Linked DNA regions of Homo sapiens: all the other regions are linked to region 1. Evidence: fine-mapped expression QTL. A gene starts in region 1. Each other region holds a variant in brackets. All regions are shown on one strand. Distances are between the middles of the regions.

Region 1 (6,150 bases):
CAGGGGAGAAGAGAGGAGAGCCAGCACTGGTGGGTGGTGGGGGTGTGGACAGATGTGGCTTGCACGACACAACAGGACAGGGATGGCTGAACAGGGCGTGGCAGACCCGCACTGGTCCAGGCAAGTGCTGAGGATCAGGGAGCTGACAGCTGCAGCCTCAGGAGAGCTGAGAAGAGCTGAGAGACTGTCAGTCGCAGGCCATCATCCGAGGCAATCTGTCCAAAGACAAGGTGGGGAAGAGCAGGAACTAGGCCTAACCATCACCCACTGGACTGGTGGGAAGAGGCTACAAGCGGGCAACCCTCTGGTACCCAACTAGGAGCTTTGAATGGAAGGAGGGGCCCAGGGGGCTGGCCTGGGAGGTCTGAGGTGGGCAAATGCTGCCTATGACATTGCAAGGGCAAGGCAGAATGACAGATGCTGTCAATTTCAGAAGAAAAGGGGCCAGATCAGAACTGTCAGGAATTTCAGGATAGCAATAGTAGTAACCTTTCACTGAGTGCCCCATTTGTGCCACCTCCCCCACAGGAGGTTGGTACTAGCATTGTCTTTGAGGCACACAGTGGTGAAGTAACTTGTCTGCAGCCACACACTAACCCATAAGTGGTGGAAGCAGCAAAAACTGGCTGGAGAGACCAGAGGCTTAACTACTATACAGCACGCGATTATAAACTACATTTGTCTGCTGAGTAGGCTCTAGCCGCCCCAAAAACTCTGAACAACGCACAGACCGCGTCGTCATTAGGCTCTTTTACATCCCAGCACCAGGCACACAGCAGGTCCTACCTGCTTCCCCGACAGAGCAGTGAGCCTGCTATTCTCTGCTCCCTCCTGACCCCACATGCTTTCCAAATTCACCTCTCACAACTGAGTGCCACCTGCAGGCAATGCCACCCCCACCCACAAACACCACCTTTCCACAGTCCCCATCCCAGCCACAGCAGAGCATCCCAGCCCCCACCATTGTAAAATCCTGGAACCCCACTTGCTGTCTGCTCCCGCCACTCCAGTCACTTGTGCCCAGGGTCTGGGGAGTCCCAGTCTGATGGCTGGACCCGCCCCTCCTTCTCCACGCAGCAGTCACCTAGGAGGCTCCAGAGCCAGTAGCCAGTTCTATTCCAGTGCAAGGAGCCCTCCTGTAGGGCTCTTACACTCTGCAGCCTAACTCTATCTAGCCCCCTCCCCAGTCTCTCTGCAAACGGAGGCCCACTCACGACCTCCAGGAAACTCTCTGCTTCACCCCACACACAAACGCCACCGGCTCACTGGGAGCACAAGGCCTGCACACACCTTCATCCCACATCTCCTATCTGCTGGCCATCCCCCCTCAGGGTGAGTTCCTCCAGGTACCTCCCAGGGTGGCCTGCAGCACTAGAACCTGCCAGGGCCACTGGCCCTACCTCCACCACCCAAACACTCTGGAATCCCTCAGGTCTGACCCCCCTCTGGGGGGGGGGTCTTCACCTGAAAGCCCAGCCCATGACCCTGGCTTCCCACCTTACTGCAGGATTATACTAAGGCCTGGACGTGAGTCGAGTCCAGTCCAGTCCCTCACTGAGCTCTAAAAAAGCAGTGACCCCGATCCAGGGCCCAGCTCCCACCACCAGCCAAGGTTAGGTATCCAGGTTGCCCACAATGACCACACCCCATGCCCGGGAGCCACAGTGTGCTACCCAGATCTCTGCCTTCCCTTCTTCCCAGTCCCCTACCCTGCCCACTCACCTGCGCACCTGTGTCCCCTGCAGTCTGGGAGAAGGCTTCCCTGCACCAGCCAGCCAGGCCTGCTTTGGGCCTGAGCCTTCCTAACCCTGGGCCGCACTCTCACCATTTTGAGAACCTTAGCCCTCCCACGCCTATCAGTCTGTTGGTCCCCCTACTTTTCTCCCCACACTGCCTGGCATAGAAGACTTTCGGCCCTTCTAGACTGGACAGCACTATCCTAAAGGGGCAGGTACCACGGCGCATGTGTGTTTGCCCCCACAAGGCCAAAGGCAGCACCTGGAACGCTGGAGCCGTTCTCTGCTCTGGGGAGACCCAGGAGCCCCAAGAACAAAACCTGCCCAAAGCCTTAAAGCAAGCTGAGTGCAGACGACTGCACCGCCCGCCCCCCAGCAACCGCCATGCAGGAAATACGAGCTCACAAGGCCCACGGCAACAAGAAGCCCACCCACCTGAGGCTACGCGAATCGCCCGCGAAGAGGGTCCTGGGATCCGTAGCCACAGACCGTGGGACGGGCCTCCCTCTGAGGGCGAGAGTCCAGGCGCCACCTAGAAAGTGGAGAACGAGATCGGCCGCCGTGAGGCCAGGCAAGGAGCGGGCGCGGCTTCCCGAGACTGCGAGAACGGCCCAAATGTCTCCAGGTGCCCCCACAAACCCCCGGCGCGGACCGAGAAACTGAGGCCCGCAGACCGAAGGCACTGCGACCCAGGCTGGGGCTCCGAGTGCCCCTCTGCGGATCAGAAGTCGGGAAAAGACGCAGGGGCGCAGCTCCAGGCCCGCGTGCACGGAGTTCAAGCCGGCCGCCCGGGCTCCCGCCTCCACACTGACCCTCTTGCCGGAGTCGGGAACGCCTGCTCCTAGGAGCGCCGCGCAGCGTCCAGAGACCGATTACATCGCGCAGCCACGCCCCCAGCGTGCGCGCGGCCGCCGTGTACGACCCGGCGCATGCTCCCGGCACGCTCCACGCGCTCCTCCCATCCAGGCCGCGCCTGCGCTGTATGCCGTGTGGCCGCTACCTCGCAGGCTCTCCCGGTCCCTGCTGGCGCGGCAGTGCCGCGCGGTGGGTGATGGGAGAGCGCGCCCATTCCCACGCCGCGCCAAGTGCCACGGGATCAGGTGGGGCCGCGTGTACAGGCGCGAGACGGTCGGGCCAAAGCTGCCCCTCATGATCCCCAGCGGACGGTGCCCGGCGGTCCCTCAGATCCGGGAAATCTGCACCCGGCTGTGGCGTAGACCGAGGGGCCGATGCTGCTTCAGCCCGCCGTTACTGCCCTGGCGTCAGCCAGACACTGGGGTGCTGCTGGGCGTCGAGAGGGCTGCTGCGGGGCCGGGCTAAGCCTGGGGGGCTGCAGGTGTCGGGGTGGATGTGGGCATAGCGGGGCTGCTGGGCCTCGTGAGCGCCCTGGAACGGCGTGCCCGCGGAGTGCCTCTCATCACTCATTGCCAGTGCGGGGAACCTTGTTAGGGCCCGGTTCGACGTAGCTGCAGGCTGGGCGCCAGAGGCAGGGGGCAGGCAGTCCGAGAGGACCCTCTACCTGCATACCTGGGGGCTGCAGGCAGGGCCTCTGGGCCTCCTTGTTGTGGATATAATTGTGTGCTTCCCGACTCAGGCCGAGGCTGGACCCGGAGACGACAGCGAGGGCAGGCTACCAAGCCCTCCCCACAGGGCCGTGCCCAGCCCAAGCCTGCCGAGTCAGCACCCAGATCCTGGGACAAGATAGGTGAGGATGAAGTGGTGGTGCTCTTCTCACTTGCACAAGCCGTCCCACGCCACCTCTCCTCGGCTTCACGGTGCCTAGAGAAGAGGTGGGAGAGGGTGCAGGCGCCCCAGCTCAGGATCTGATGCCTGTGGGCCAAGGACCTGGATGCAAGCCAGGAGTCCTTGGGGCCACGGGCAGGCAGCCGGATTCACCGGAAAGTGACGCTTCTCAAGGGGAACACACACGTAACACACCAGCTCCCTTTCTGCCCTGGTCCAGTGACTCCTTTCATGAAAGCTCTCTGAAATGTTATCTGCATTTACACCCAAACTCACTCACTTTGATCCCTGAAACGCGAATCAAAGGTCACATTGTACCTTCCCTGGGTCTGTGGGGCTTTCAGCAGCCTGGGCCAAAAATAATAAAAGTGGCACCGAGCCAGGAAACGCCTCCTTGAAGTGGGAATGAAATTTGGATTTTTTTCGGTTGTATCTTTCCTAATTGACCTGATAATTTAAACTTCCTCCCTCAAGGGAAAGGTGGGGGTTCCCACAAATTCAGCTTACCTCAGCCTCAAGGCAGCTCAGTCTACAGCTCAGCGCCCATCAGCAGAGTGGGCAGTGGGCCTGTGGAAGAAATGAATCCAACTGAGCCAGAAAAGGCCTTTTTTGGTCCAAATTTTTTTTTTCTTTCAGGCCCTCTCCTGTGTATAACTGTCATGCACCGCATAACAACGTTTTGGTCAACTAGGGACCACATATGTAACTGGTCATCCAGTAAGCTATAGTTATTTTATTATTGAAGAAAGAAAATTTTTAGGCCAGGCGCTGTGGAGGCTCATGCTTGTAATCCCAGCATTTTGGGAGCCCAAGGCGGGCAGCTCATTTGAGGTCAGGAGTTTGAGACCAGCCTGGTCAACATGGTGAAACCCTGTCTCTACCAAAAATACAAAAAATTAGCCGGGCGTGGTGGTATGTGCCTGTAATCCCAGCTACTTGGGAGGCTGAGGCAGGAGAATCGCTTGAACCCAGGAGGCGGAGGTTGCAGTGAGCTGAGATTGTGCTACTGCACTCCAGCCTGGGCAATAGAGTGAGACTCCATCTCAAAAAAAAAGGAAAATGTTTAATATAAGTGTGTTGCAGCCTAAGTGTACAGTGTTTATAAAGTCTAAAGTAGTGTACAATAATGTCTTAGGCCTTCACATTCACTCACCACTCACACCCACAGCAACTTCCAGTCCTGCACCTCTGTTCATGGCAAGTGCCCTAACCAGTTCTATTTTTTATTTTTTGCACTGTACTTTTACTGTACCTTTGCTATGATTAGGTGCACTAATACCACTGTGTCACAATTGCCTACATTGTTCAGTAGAGTCACTGTGCAAGTTTGTAGCCCAGGAGCAACAGGCCTTACCATACAGCCTAGGTGTGTAGTAGGCTCTACCATCTTAGTTTGTGTAAGTTACTCTATGAGGATCCCTCCATGACAAAATCGCCTAGTGACACATTTCTCAGAGTGTATCCCCACAGTTAAGTGACATATGACTGTTTTTTTATTGTGGTAAAATATAGTAACATTTACCATTTTAGCCATTTTTAGGTATACAGTTCAGGAGCATTAAGTACATTCATGCTGTTGTATATCCAGTGATCACTATTTATTTCTAGAACTTTTTCTTCACTCCAGAACATTAACTCCTCTTCCCCTCCCACTCGCAACCCCTGGTAACCATCATTCTATATTCTGTCTCTGTGAATTTAATTACTCTAGGTACCTCATATAAGTGGAATCATACAGTATTTATCATTTTGTGACTGGATTATTTCACTCAACATGTTTTCAAGGTTCATCCACATCGTAGCATGTGTCAGAACTTCCTTCATTTTTAAGGCTGTGTAATATTCCTTTGTACACATTGACCAGATTTTGTTTATTCATTTGTTGATTGACACTTGGGTTGTTTTCACCTTTTGGCTATTGTGAATAATGCTGCTATGAACATTAGTGTACAAGTATATGTTTGAGTCCCTGCTTTCAGTACATAAGAGTGAAATTGCTGAATGATACGGTAATATTTTGTTTGACTTTTTGAGAGATTGCCAAACTTTTCCATAGCAAGTGAACCATTTTACATTCCCACCAACAGTGCACAGGAGTTCCAACTTCTCCACATCCTCACCAACACTTGGTTACCTTCTCTTTTGTTTTTTTCCAATAGCCATCCTAACGGTATGAAGTGGTGTCCCATTGTGATTTTAATTTGCATTTCTCTAATGACTAGTGAGATTGAGCATCTTTTCCTGTTATTGGCCATTTGTATATCTTCACTGGAGAAATGGCTATTCAAGTCCTATGCCCATTTTTCACTGGATTTTTGTTTTTATTGTTGAGTTGTAAGATTTTTCTAGATATTCTGGATATTAATCCCTTGTCAGATATATCATTTGCAAGTATTTCTCCATAGGCTGCCTTTTCACTCTGTTGATAGTGTCTTTTGATACACAGAAGTTTTTCATTTTCATTAAAATGTCATTAACTTAATTTCACTAAATTAATTTCATTAATTTCCAAGTCTAATTTGTCTATATGTTGGTGGTAGTGGTGGTGTTATATCTAAATCATTGCCAAATCCAGTGCTATGAAGTTTTGCCCTATGTTTTCTGCTAAGTTTTATAGGTTTAGGTCTTTATATTTAGGACTTTGACCCATTTTGAGTTCATTTTTACATAC
Region 2 (6,745 bases), 61 kb before region 1:
AGTAAAAAAAAGATCTAAATATACTCAACAGGCTGAGTGTGGTGGCTCATGCTTGTAATCCCAGCTGCTTGGGAGGCAAAGACAGGAGGATTGCTTGAGGCTGGGAGTTTGAGGCTGTAGTAAGCTAAGATCACACCACTGCACTCCAGCCTGGGCAACAGAGTGAGACCCTGTCTTTAAAAAACATTACAGATTAGCCAGGTGTGGTCGTGTAGTCCCAGCTACTTGGGAGGTTGAGGTTGGAAGATCATTTGAGTCTAGGTTTATGATTGAATTTCAAAGTGAAATCTAAATCTATGCTAGGTACAAGGAGGATGCCAAAGGAACTCTTGGCAAAGATATACTGGGAAAATGCAAATAAGAACAGGGTAATCTGAATAATAGGAACATTTGAATTCAGGGCCAAAGCATTAGGTAAGATTATATAAAAGACTTAACAATGATAAAGAGTACAATTCCCAATGAAGAGCCATATAATCCCAGCACTTTGGGAGGCCAAGGCAGGAGGACTGCCTGAGCCCAGGAGTTCAAGACCAGCCTGGGCAACATATAGAGATACTGTCTTTACAAAAAAAATTTTTTAATTAGCCATGCATGCTGGCATGCACCTGTAGTCCCAGCTTACTGGGAGGCTGAGGTGGAAGGATTGCTTAAGCCCAGGAGTTTGAGGCTGCAGTGAGCTGTGATCACACCATTGTACTCCAGCCTGGGTGACAGAGCAAGACCTTGTGCTCCCCACCCCCCAAAATAACTGTAAATATCTGTTTAGCCAGTAAACTGACATATCATCCATAAAGCAAGAACAATAGGAAAGTGTCTATAATTGAGAAACTGGTACCAGACTAGTCTTCTTGCTGTAAACAACCATAAAAAGTGGACAAAATACACAAGGCAACTGTTTACAGGCAGGGAGCACTAGGCAGAGAAGGGCAGCTGATGAGGTGGGCCTCCCAAATGCCCCCACAGCTCTCTGCCTGGAGACAATGCCATGAGCATGAAGTCCAGGCAGAACATAGTGGTCACATTAAGCTGAGGAGGCAGAGATCATAATCTGCAGTAGCCAGAGGGCTGAAATCCATGGGGCAAGGCAAAGGAACAGAGGGAGCTGAAGATTGTCTGAGGGGGTCCCTATGAGTCTTGTGTGAGGGCTGGACTGCGCATGCTCACGGTGGACTCCACAGGGCTTACCAGAGCTGCACAGTTAAACAGAACAAGTTCAAGAGGTCAACAGTGCCGGGGGTCCAGTCAGCCTGAATGTGAAGACTGTGTGACAGCCTGAGACCAGCTGAGCTACCAGAACGGCTTCACTTCAGGAATAGGATTCTATCTTAGAGTATGGCCTACCCTAGATCTACCAGAACAAAACTAGAAACCAAGCCCTGAAAAGGTCTGCAGGAGAGGCAGAGTTTGGAAGTTGAGGTCCACCCCACTAAACAAGCCTGGGAATGAACTTTCCACAGACCTGCCCTAACAAAGCCAAAAGCCAAGCCTGCACAAGCTCAAGGTGAACAGTCAGTAACTGAACTCCATACCAGAATGAAAGCAAACACTCTTCAGAGCAAAATAACAGAACCCAGAGATTCAGCATGTATCATTTACCATGTCTGGCACACAAACAGCAAATTAGTAGACATGCTAAGAAGCAGGAATATATGACCCATAGTCAAGGGGAAAAAGCAGTTAATAGAAACTGACCCCAAAATGGCAGAGATGTTGAACATATCAGATAAAGACTTTAAAGAAACTCCTTAACTATGTTCAAAAAATGAAAGGAGCTCTCTCCCACCACCCAAGATGCCAAAAGGAAAGAAGGCCAAGGGAAAGAAGGTGGCTCTGGCCCCTGCTGTCATGAAGAAGCAGGAGGCTAAGAAAGTGGTGAATCCCCTGTTTGAGAAAAGGCCTAAGAATTTTGGCATCGGACAGGACATCCAGCCCAAAAGAGACCTCACCCACTTTGTGAAATGGCCCCGCTATATCAGGTTGCAGCGGCAGAGAGCCATCCTCTATAAGCGGCTGAAAGTGCCTCCTGCAATTAACCAGTTCACCTAGGCCCTGGACTGCCAAACAGCTACTCAGCTGCTTAAGCTGGCCCACAAGTACAGACCAGAGACAAAGCAAGAGAAGAAGCAGAGACTGTTGGCCTGGGCTGAGAAGAAAGCTGCTGGCAAACGGGACGTCCCCACCAAGAGACCACCTGTCCTTCGAGCAGGAGTTAACATCGTCACCACCTTGGTGGAGAACAAGAAAGCTCAGCTGGTGGTGATTGCAGACGACGTGGATCCCATCGAGCTGGTTGTCTTCTTGCCTGCCTTGTGTCGTAAAATGGGGGTCCCTTACTGCATTATCAAGGGGAAGGCAAGACTGGGACGTCTAGTCCACAGGAAGACCTGCACCACTGTCACCTTCACATAGGTGAACTCGGAAGACAAAGGCACTTTGGCTAAGCTGATGGAAGCTATCAGGACCAATTACAATGACAGATACGATGAGATCCGCCGTCACTGGGGCGGCAACATCCTGGGTCCTAAGTCTGTGGCTCGTATCGCCAAGCTCGAAAAGGCAAAGGCTAAAGAACTTGCCACTAAACTGGGTTAAATGTACACTGTTGAGTTTTCTGTACATTAAAATAATTAAAATAATACAAATTTTCCTTCAAAAAAAAAATGAAAGGAAAGTGTATTCAAATAATTACCCAAAAAATTGTCTTGAGTGAGCAAATAGGAACTCTTAGCAGAGAAATGGAAATTATAAAAAAGAGTCATAATAGAAAATATAGAACTGGAAAGCTCAATACTGAAATGAAAAATGTATTGAATAGGCTTAACAGTAGATTGGAAATATATATTTTTTAAAGTCAGTGAACTGGAAGACAGATCAACAGACATTGCCCAATCTGAAGAGAGAAAAAACGACTGAACCAAAACAAACAGAGCCTCAGGGGGCCATGGGATGCTATCAAACTGTGTAACTCATAGAAGCCCCAGAAGGAGGAGAAAGTGAAAATGGTCAAGAAGAAACAGTGGCTGGATATTTCCCAATTTTAATGGGAAACACGAATATATAGATGAAAAGCTCAGCAGAACCCAATCAGGACAAGAAGAAAAATCTATCTAGGCACATGATAGTCAAACTACTGAAAACCACAGATAAAAAAAAATCTTGAAAGCAGCCACGGAGCAAGACATATTACATGCATGGGAATGATAGGATATCATGAGTTCTCATCAGAAACAATGTAACAACATCTTTACAGGGCATGAAGAAAAATAAAACTATCATTCCTAAATTCCATAGCCAGGATTCTGTAAAAATGAGGGTGATAAAGACATTTTTTAGATAAACAAAAGCTAGAGAATTTTTTGCCAGCAGAATTGCACTACAAAAAAATGTTAAGAGGATACTTGGGTCTATAGGATGAGCACCAGAAATGGCAAAGGGGTGAGTAAATGTAACATGTTATGTTTTTTATTTCTTGTAAGTTTTTTTTTAAACTGATGATTTAAAGGAAAACTGGCCAGATGCAGTGGCTCATGCCTTTAATCCCAGCATGTGGGATTGCTTGAACCTAGGAGTTCAAGGCCAGCCTGGGCAACATAGTGAGACCCTATCTCTACAAAAACTTATCCAGGCATGGTGATAGGTGCCTGTAGTCCCAACTACTTGGGAGGCTGAGGCAGGGGTTTGAGGGTGCAGTGAGCTGTGATTGCACCACTGCACCCCAGCCTGGGTGACAGAGCAAGACCTTGCCTCAAAGAAAAGGGAAACTAATATTGTAAGGTGCAGTTTTGAATGTGTGTAGACGTCAAGTAGATCACAACAGTCACAGAAAGACTAAAAAGGTGAGTAGAAGGGATTGCACCAGCACAAGGTCATCATGTTTGTGAGGCGGGATGTAAACAACACTGATTCTAAGGAGACTTTGAGAAGGTTGCACACTCTTGGAGTGCAACCACTTAGGAACAAAAGTGGCAAGAGGTCTAGCTAAGAAGCCAAGAGAGGAAACAAAACCGAATACTAAAAAATAAATATTTGATTACCACAAAAGAAGGTAGGAAAGGAGGAAAAGTGGTCAAAAATGGAAGTGACAAGTAGAAAATAAGTATAGAGGTGTTAGA[C/G]TTAATCCCAGGCATGTCAATAATTACAGTGAATGCAAACAGACTAAATGCACCAGTTAAAAGGCAGAGATTGTCAGAAAGCATCACAAAGCAAGACACATCTGTCTGCTAAAGATGCTTTTCATTGGGAGGCCGAGGCAGACGGATCACGAGGTCAAGAGATCGAGACCATCCTGGACAACATGGTGAAACCCTGTCTCTACTAAAAATACAAAAATTAGCCGGGTGTGGTGGCGTGTGCCTGTAATCCCAGCTACTCGAGAGGCTGAGGCAGGAGAATCACTTGAACCTGGGAGGCGGAGGTTGCAGTGAGCCGAGATCACGCCATTGCACTCCAGCCTGGTGACAGAGTGAGACTCCGTCTCAAAACAATAAAATAAAATAATAAAATAAAATAAAATAAAAGATGCTTTTTAAATATCAAGAGGTCAGGACAGGTTGAAAGTAGAAGCAAGGAGGAAAATGCAAAGGGCAAACCTAAGAAAGTCGATGCTACTGTTTAGTATCAGACAAAGCCAACTTCAAGACAAAGAGCATTAACAAGAGACAAGGGACACTTTGTGCTGAGAAAAAGGCTCTGCACCAAGATGAGGTGACATCTCAGCGCCTATACACCCACACTGAGCCCCAGAGCTTCAAAGCTCATGAAGCAAAACTGGCAGAGACAAAGAAACAGGCACGTTTGCAATCACAGTTAAAGATTTTAAGAGCCTTCTCTGCGTAACTGGTAAAAAAAAAACAAAACTAGACCAAAAGATCGGTAAGGATATTAAAGACTGGAACCACGTCCACTGACCTGGGTCAGGCTGACGGAAGGCTCCACCCCACAACTGCGGAACACACGCTCCTTTCAAGTCCATGTGGTGCACTCCCCGAGACACGCCATGTGCTGGGCCAAAAGCAAGCCTCCATAAATTTCTAAACACTGCAATTGCACTGCGTGCATTCACTGACAACAGAATTAAGCTAGATTAAAGATATAGCTACAAAATCAACGAATATTTGGAAATTAAATAACACACCCCCACCAAGGAACCTACAGATCAAAGAGAAAATCACAATATTCTGAACTGAATTAAAATGAAGACACAGTAAGTCAAAGCCAATGAGACTGAGTCACATGGAAGGTGGCCAGGCTGGGAGCTGAATTCTCAGCAGCCCAGGGAGGTGGCAGGACCTAGACCCATGGCCCAGCAGCTGCTGCTGCTCAGAGAACGGCCCCTCAGCATCCAGGCCCGTGCATCAGAGGCCACCAGCACAGCCACCAAGAGGCCCCTGCCTGAGGAATCCCTAAAGGATGCGCTTTTTGGCTTCCAGAAGGAGGTCTTGAGATGTAAGAACACCCAGGGCAACGCTCACACACGACATGCAATCATCGATGTGAGAACTGGCTCCATAAGAGATGTGTCTACGCCTGGAGGGCCAGGAAGGTTGGAGGTAAAATGATTAAAATGTAAAGGCTATAAAGGGAAGTAGTGACCAAAAGAAACCTGGACTGAGCCATATTAATAGTTGGAAAAATAGGCTTTGGGGCAAATGTCCTTTCTAGAGATGATGAGGGGGAATGAAGAAAAGACCTCATTCACCAGGAAATCACCATTTTAAACTGGCATGTTCCCAGGCCAGCTTCAAAGTGCATAAAGCAAATACAGACAGGCCCCCAGCAAAAGGGAACAGGACAGGCCTCTCTGCGCCTGCTGGGGACCATGGTGACCTGCAGGATGACTTAAAGGGCTAAGAATCAGTGGACACACGGGCCTGGCGCCCACGTGTGCAGCGGGGCATCTGACAACCAGCACTGCCTCCCTGGCACATGTGCAATGCTTATGAAAACTGGACGGCCCCGCATTTCAAAGAACTAATATCATTCAGACCTTGTTCCCAGACCACAATGTTAATTAAGTTAGAAATTGAAAACTAAAAAATAACTGGGGAAAAAAATCAAACATTCAGAACCATAAAAACATTCTAATTAACTCAGCAGCCAGAGAACAAATAAAAATGGGGTCTTTGTGTCAAATGAGGAATATGGGGAAAAAATAATAAAAATGGGGTCTGCCTGGAAGTGGGGGGAGGAAGACAATGTCTTCTTGCACCAGGGAGCCCAGCTGGACAGTCACCTCTGGAAACAGGCTCCATGTGGGGCTGGCAAGGGAAGGCTGAGTGCCGATGGGCTGTGCACCTGACCCCAGGCAGGGCAGCAGATGCAACCCAGGGGACATGGGATGGAGGGAGAGCATGGCAAGGACAGAAACAATGAACAGAAAGATAGAAATGCTCAAGGACAAACGCATACAAGACTGATCAGGAATAAAGCAGGGACGGAGCTTTGAATGCGGCAGAAATTTAAACAATCATCACAAGCAGTCCAAAAAAGGTCACTAGGAATACAACCTTCAGGATTTGTATGCCCACAGACAAATTCCTAGAAAAATTCCCCAAATCAGGAAACCTAAATTAGTCCACAAAGAAAACAACCTGGGCAGAGAAAATAACTGCCCAGTAATGGTGCAGGCGAAGACCAACCTACAGTCACTCACGACCCCCCACCTCCACCGCCCAAATGTGTCCATCCATCGGGAGAAGAGGGAACGCTCCCCACCAGCTCCCTGAGCCTGGGGCTCCTGTCA
Region 3 (6,745 bases), 76 kb before region 1:
CTCCCGAGTGGAAGGTGTAAGCCACGTGGGCACAGGTGGGAGGGAGTTCTCACCACCCATGGCTGCTAGTGCCCCTGAAACCACCTGGAAGTCCCAGCGGCTTCCCCAGGGACAGGCAGTGCTGTGGCCCGTGTCCACCCCAGCTCTGGGGCCTGTGCTCGTGGCTCCGTGTCTGCCCGTGGTCTCCCTCTCTCTCAGGGGTGGTTTCTCTGTCCCTACCCAATATGGTGCTCTATAGCTTTCCTTAGGATCCTAGCTCCTCAGGAGGAAGACGTGTGGCCCCTTGCTCCAGGAAGGCCCAGTCCTCCCTCACTGGGGGTGGGAGGGTAAGGCAAAAGTGCCAAAGTGTCCATCCCATGAATGCAAGACACACAGTGCCTGCTCTAGAAGAGCTCATGTTCCAGCAGGGACAGCTAACACCCAGGGGCCTGCACGGGGTGGAGGGCTCTTCAGAGGCAGGATCACCTCGGAGATGGGTGCAGGGGACCTCGGGCCACCCCAGGGCCAGGCCTGCTTGCCCTGCTTAGGAGCTGGGTCTCCCACTCAGGGAGGGAGGGGTCATGTCTCAAGGGCAGCCACTGGGCCTGAAAAGCAGAACCGCATGTGATCAGTCTGGGTGGGCAAGACTTCAAGAGAGCACGCCTACCCTCAAGGGATGGAAGCAGAGGCTGGTAGCCGACGTCCATGCCAGCCACCAACTCAGAGCCAGCACACTACCCGCATGTGCCTCTGCCAATGAGTGGATGAAAAGCAGCGACCTACAGATGCAGGCAACCTGGATGAGTCTTGACTTTATCTCACGGAGGGAAGGAAGCAGGCTCGGGAGGTGCCGTGCCGCGTGGCTCTGTTTATAAGCTGTCTGGGAAAAGGCAAAACCACAGTACAGAACACAGATCAGCCAGTGCAGGCAGGAAGGGCCAGCACACGGGGTGGGAGGAGCTTCCTGGGTAACGCTCAATCCCATACGCTACAGAGGGCGCATGTTATTGAACATTAAGGTTTTTTTAAAAAATTTTAATTTAATATAATTTAATTATTATTATACTGTTTTAGGGTACATGTGCACAACATGCAGGTTTGTTACATATGTATACATGTGCCATGTTGGTGTGCTGCACCTATTAACTCGTCATTTAGCATTAGGTATGTCTCCTAATGCTATCCCTCCCCCTCCCCCTACCCCACAACAGTCCCCGGAGTGTGATGTTCCCCTTCCTGTGTCCGTGTGTTCTCATTGTTCAATTCCCACCTATGAGTGAGAACATGCGGTGTTTGGTTTTTTGTCCTTGCGATAGTTTGCTGAGAATGATGGTTTCCAGTTTCATCCATGTCCCTATGAAGGACATGAGCTCTTCATTTTTTATGGCTGCATAGTATTCCATGGTGTATATGTGCCACATTTTCTTAATCCAGTCTATCGTTGTTGGACATTTGGGTTGGTTCCAAGTCTTTGCTATTGTGAATAGTGCTGCAATAAACATACGTGTGCATGTGTCTTTATAGCAGCATGATTTATAATCCTTTGGGTATATACCCAGTAATGGGGTGGCTGAGTTCTACTCTTATAAAGAGCGTGCTGGCCTTTCCCATGCCTTCTCGTCTGTTTTGACCCATTCTGGGTATCGGTCCTTTTCGTCTCCCCCTCTCCATCCTCTCTCAGCCCCTTTCACTGGGTTTCAGTGTGCTGGGCACAGGTTCAGGGTGTGTTGTTACTCTTAATTTTTTTTTTTTTTTTTTTGAGACAGGGTCTCCCTCTGCCCCCCAGCCTGGAGTGCAGTGGTATGATCATGGCTCACGGCAGCCTTGACCTCCTAGGCTCAAGTGATCCTCTTACCTCAACCTCCCATGTAGCTGGGAACACAGGCACGCACCACCATGCCCGGCTAATTTTTAAGTTTTTTGTGGAGATGGGATTTTGCCATGTTGCTCAGGCTGGTCTCGAACTCCTGAGCTCAAGTGATCCTCTTGCCTTGGCCTCTCAAAGTGCTGGGATTACAGGCGTGAGCCACCACACCCAACCAGGATTTATTACTCTTAACTAGTAAAACAGCACATTCCTGCTCATTTCAAGAGACAGGATCTTGCTCTGTCACCCAGGCTGGAGTGCAGTGGCATCGTGATCAAGGCTCACTGCAGCCTCAACCTCCCAGTCTCAAGCAAACCTTCCTCCTCAGTCTCCCGAACAGCTAGGACTACAGGTGTGTGCCACCACACCTGGCTTTTTTGATGTTGTTGTTGTTGTTAGAGATGGGGGTCTCACTATGTTGCCCAGGCTGGTCACAAACTCCTGAGCTCAAGTGATCCTCCCGCTTTTGCCCTCCAAAGCACTGGGATTATAGGTGTGAGCCACTGCACCTGGCCATTGCTCCTTATTTCTTTTCTTTCTTTCTTTTCTTCTTCTTTTTTTTTTTTGAGACGGAGTTTCGTTCTGGTTGCCCAGGCTGGAGTGCAATGGCGTAGTCTCAGCTCACTGCAAACTCCACCTCCTGGGCTCAAGCAATCCTCCTGCCTCAGCCTCCCAAATAGCTGGGATTACAGGCATGCGCCACCATGCCTGGCTAATTTTTGTATTTTCAGTAGAGACGGGGCTTCACCATGTTGGGCAGGCTGATCTCAAACTCCTGGGCTCAAATGATCCGCCTGCCTCAGCCTCCCAAAGTTCTGGGATTGTAGGCATGAGCCACCGTGTCCAGCCCCTTTGAAACCCCATCTCTACTAAAAATATAAAAGTTAGCTGGACGTGGCGGCAGGTGCCTGTAATCCCAGCTACTTGGGAGGCTGAGGCAGGATAACTGCTTGAACTTGGGAGGTGGAGGTTGCAGTGAGCTGAGATTGCACCACTGCACTCCAGCCTAGGCAACAATAAGACTCCGTCTCAAACAAATAAAATAAATAAAAGTAGGTAAGGGGGAGATCTGGTTCCCTGATCCGACGTCTTTCCTTGGGGTCACTGACTGTGGGAAAGGCCTGTGCTGGGCTGAGGTGGGACCTGGTGTGGCTGTGGAGGCCGTGTCTGTGTCTGTGTCCTGTGGGCGGCTCGGCTCGTTGGGAGATGCAGTCCTGTCCTGCCCTTCCATGCGGTTCAGACACTGGACATTTGTGCAGTCTGATCTGCAAGAAAAGAGAGGCACCTCTGACATGGTACTTCATCCACTCTCATTGGATGGGGTTGTCACCCAGGTGGACATGTCCTGAAGGACAAGGAAGTGAAAGCTGAGACGTCTAGGAACACACCAGAGAGAGAAGTGGAGCTTCTGAGGGATGCAGGTGGCTGTGTGAACCTGGGGCTCCCCTGCCCCGCAGAGTGCCAACCCTTCAATACCCAGGGCCTGGTGGCTGGGAGGACCGCAGGTGACCGTCTTTGTTGAATGCTGAGGCCGGGCCATGGGCACATGGAGTTGTCGTGTTTCCCTTCACTTTGGTTCATGTTTGAAATTTCCAAAATTAAAAAAACAGTGACTTGTTCAGTAAATTCCAATATGAATAAA[G/T]TGCATGTTTTGTAATAAATACTTCTCCATAGAGTCACACTCCCAGTTGATAAATCAAAACTTGTTGGATAAAACAAAGTAAATTTCTCCTGACATTTAAACATTGACTGTAAACTCATTATAAACACTTCTAAATATTTAATGGAAACTACAAGCTTAACATATCTGATCCAAAAATGCCTTAAACACCTCAGTACAGACACCCACACACTATGAGGATGATTCCCTCAAACTGGTTCTGAAAGCAGTAGCTGTGCTTTTCTCTATCGCGTTCTTATTCTTTCTCCGACGTGCTCTTAGCACCCTCCTGGGGATTAGCATCCGACCCACATCACTCGGGAAAAGCCCTGGCTGGCGGCTCCCAGGCGGAGGCACCACGGTGAGGCCAAGTGCTGCTGTCCAGTAAGCCTGACTGCCCCCTCAGGCTCTTTCCCTTCACATTTACTTATTTATTTTTTAAATCGACATATAAAATTGACGTATTTATTGTGTAAACTTCTTACCACAAAAATGAGAACTATGTCAGGTGATGTATTTGCTAGTTAGCTAGACTTAAGCAGGCCTTTAGTTTTCAGTTTTTAACATTGAGGGAAAATACACGTAAATCAAATTTACCATCGTAGCCCTTTGTAAGTGTACATTTCAGTGGCATGAAGTCCATCCACATGACTGTGCAGCCATCACCACCAGCCATCTCAGAACTCTTCATCTCAGAAAACTGAAACTCTGTCCCCATTAAACAAGAACTCCTCATTCCCCTCCCCTGGCAGCCAGCATTCTACTCTCTGTCTCTGTGAATCTGACTACTCTAGGCGCCTCATGTAAGTGGAATCACACAGCATTTGTCTTTTTGTGGCTGGCTTAGTTCACTGAGTGTAAGGACCTCAAGGTTCATCCGTGTTCTAGCCTGTGTCGGAACTCCCTGCCTTTATAAGGCTGAACACTATTCTGTTGTATGTCTGTACCACGTTTTGTTGATTCATTCTTCTGTCAATGGACACTTGGGTTGCTCCCACCTGTTGGCTGCTGTGAGTAATGCCGCTATGAACGTGGGTATAGAAATATCTTTGCAGCCCTGCTTTCAGTTCTCTTGGGTATTCTGCCACAAGAGGAACTGCTGGCTCATATGGTAATTCTATGTCCAGGATTTTGAGAAATGACCACACTGTTTTCCATAGCTGCTACTCCATTTTTACATTCCCACCAATAGCGCACAAGGGTTCAGATTTCTCCACACACTTGTTTTCTGTTTTTTTTTTTGTTTTTTTTTTTTGAGATGGAGTCTCGCTCCGTCGCCCAGGCTGGAGTGCAGTGGCGCGATCTCGGCTCACTGCAAGCTCTGCCTCCTGGGTTCATGCCATTCTCCTGCCTCAGCCTCCCGAGTAGCTAGGACTACAGGTGCCCGCCACCACGCCCAGCTAATTTTTTGTAGTTTTAGTAGAGACGGGGTTTTACCATGTTAGCCAGGATGGTCTCGATCTCCTGACCTCGTGATCCACCCGCCTCAGCCTCCCAAAGTGCTGGGATTACAGGCGTGAGCCACTGCACCCGGCCCTGTTTTGTTTTTATTTTTGGTGTACCCATCCTCATGGGTGTAAGGCAGTATCTGTCTCATTATAGTTCTGACTTGCATTTCCCCAGAGGATAGTGATGCTGTGCCTGCTGGCTACTCATACATCTTCTTTGGAGATATGTCTACTTAAGTCATTTGTCTATTTTTTTTTAATTTTTAATTTTTAGAGACAGGGTCTCACTATGTTGCCCAGGCTGGACTCCAGCTCCTGGATTAAGTGATCCTCTTGCCTCAGCCTCTTGAATAACTGGGTACATACCACGGCACCCAGGATGGCCCATTTTTGAATCGGCTTTTTTGTTGTTGTTGAGTTTTAGGAGTTCTCTATATATTGTGGATATTAATCCCTTATCAGATATATGGTTTGTAAAGATTTTCTCTCAGTCTGTGGGCTGCTTTTTTACTCTGTTGATGGTGTCTTTTGATGCATACAACTTTTAAATTTTCATGAAGTCCAGTTTGTCTATTTTTTTCTTTTGTGAAATGTGCCTTTCGTGTCATATCCAAGAATTTATTGCTAAATTCAATGTCATGAAGCTTTTGGCCTATGTTTTCTTCTAAGGGTTTTATGGTTTTAGGTCTTAATTTAGGTCTTTGCTCTATTTTGAGTTTATAGGGTATGAGGTGGGGGATCAAACTGCATTCTTTTGCATTTGTAAATCCAGTTTTCCCAACATCATTTGTTAAAAAGACAGTCTTTTCCCCCATTGAATGGTCACCACATTAAAAATCATTTGGCCAGCCAGGTGCAGTGGCATGTACCTATAGTCCCAGCTACTTGGGAGGCAGAGGTAGGAGAATTGCTTGAGGCCAGGAGTTCAAGACCAGACTGGGCAACGCAGTGAGACCCTGTTTCTAATTGAGAAAAATATCACTGGTTTATTTCTAGGCTGTCTATTCTATTACATTGGTCTTTACATCTGCCTTTATGCCAGTACCACACTGTTTTGATTACTATAGCTTTATAGTAAATTTTGAAACCAGGAAGTATGAATCCTCCAAGTTTATTCATTTTAAGATTGTTTTAGCTATTAAGGGGTCCTTGAGACTCCATATGAATTTCAAAATGGCTTTTTCTATTTCTACAAAAAATGTCATTGGGATTTTTGAAGGGAATGCATTGAATCTGTAGACTGCTTTGGGTAGTATGGATATCTTAACAATGTTAAGTTTTCCAATCCATGAACATGGGATGTATTTCCATTTATTTATGTTTTAATTTCTTTCAGCAGTGTTTTATAGATTTCAGTGTACAAGTCTTTCACCTCCCTAGTTAAGCTAATTCTTAAGTATTTTATTATTTTTAATGCTGAGTCTCTTTTGATAACAAAACCTCTTGTTATGTTGAGGAACTCTTTAGCCCATCTTTTGTATTTGCTTTCAGTTTGTGACACTTTAGCATCTCTTCCTGAGATGAGCGATTCTTTGGGTTTCATGGATGGGAGAGCCCATTGCATTATCCTTTCATTTGGAGATATTGCCTGGTGTGTTGGGACAAGGAAGGACTAACCTTCCTTGTCAGTGTCTTATCACACCCGCAGGGCTGAGTGACAGGGTGGTCCTGGGCAGGCTGCCTGTGGCTGTGCAAGCTGAGTGGGTGCACACTGGACTCTTCCCACCTACTGATGGTGTGTGAGGCTGATGTGCATGGATTCTAGCTCCTTCCCTGTTTCTGGGGCCTCAG

Direction of the effects. Alleles are on the strand shown, and positions count from the first base shown. SD is a standard deviation of normalised expression in the study named.
For the expression in monocytes after LPS of the gene that starts at base 2,603 in region 1, allele C in region 2 goes with a lower level than allele G (large effect, 1.0 SD a copy in Kim-Hellmuth 2017).
For the expression in skeletal muscle of the gene that starts at base 2,603 in region 1, allele G in region 3 goes with a lower level than allele T (small effect, 0.18 SD a copy in GTEx).

What was found. PIP is the estimated chance that this variant, and not a neighbour inherited with it, causes the effect. A credible set is the group of variants that fine-mapping cannot tell apart.
Region 2: its variant is the best candidate, but not a certain one, in a credible set for the expression of GNB1L in monocytes after LPS (Kim-Hellmuth 2017, PIP 0.83).
Region 3: its variant is the best candidate, but not a certain one, in a credible set for the expression of GNB1L in skeletal muscle (GTEx, PIP 0.74).

The regions. Positions count from the first base shown.
Region 1 is chr22:19,852,272-19,858,421 of GRCh38, forward strand. GNB1L (G protein subunit beta 1 like) reads right to left here and starts at 2,603. Exons shown (of 8, transcript NM_053004.3): 1 at 2,549-2,603; 2 at 2,172-2,268. It overlaps RTL10 (retrotransposon Gag like 10), which reads right to left and starts at 2,603. Exons shown (of 3, transcript NM_024627.6): 1 at 2,389-2,603; 2 at 2,172-2,268; 3 at 1-215. It overlaps LOC124905080 (a long non-coding RNA gene), which reads left to right and starts at 2,701. Exons shown (of 2, transcript XR_007068005.1): 1 at 2,701-3,441. RefSeq lists enhancers at 1,093-1,711, 3,134-3,613.
Region 2 is chr22:19,790,500-19,797,244 of GRCh38, forward strand. All of the region lies in intron 7 of GNB1L (G protein subunit beta 1 like), which reads right to left. It also overlaps the pseudogene RPL7AP70. Among named protein-coding and RNA genes, the nearest start is that of TBX1, 33 kb to the left of the region's middle. RefSeq lists an enhancer at 6,740-6,745. The variant C/G (reference allele first, on the strand shown) is at 4,116.
Region 3 is chr22:19,776,040-19,782,784 of GRCh38, forward strand. It overlaps a transcript of TBX1 not described here. Among named protein-coding and RNA genes, the nearest start is that of TBX1, 19 kb to the left of the region's middle. RefSeq lists a silencer at 500-1,001. The variant G/T (reference allele first, on the strand shown) is at 3,489.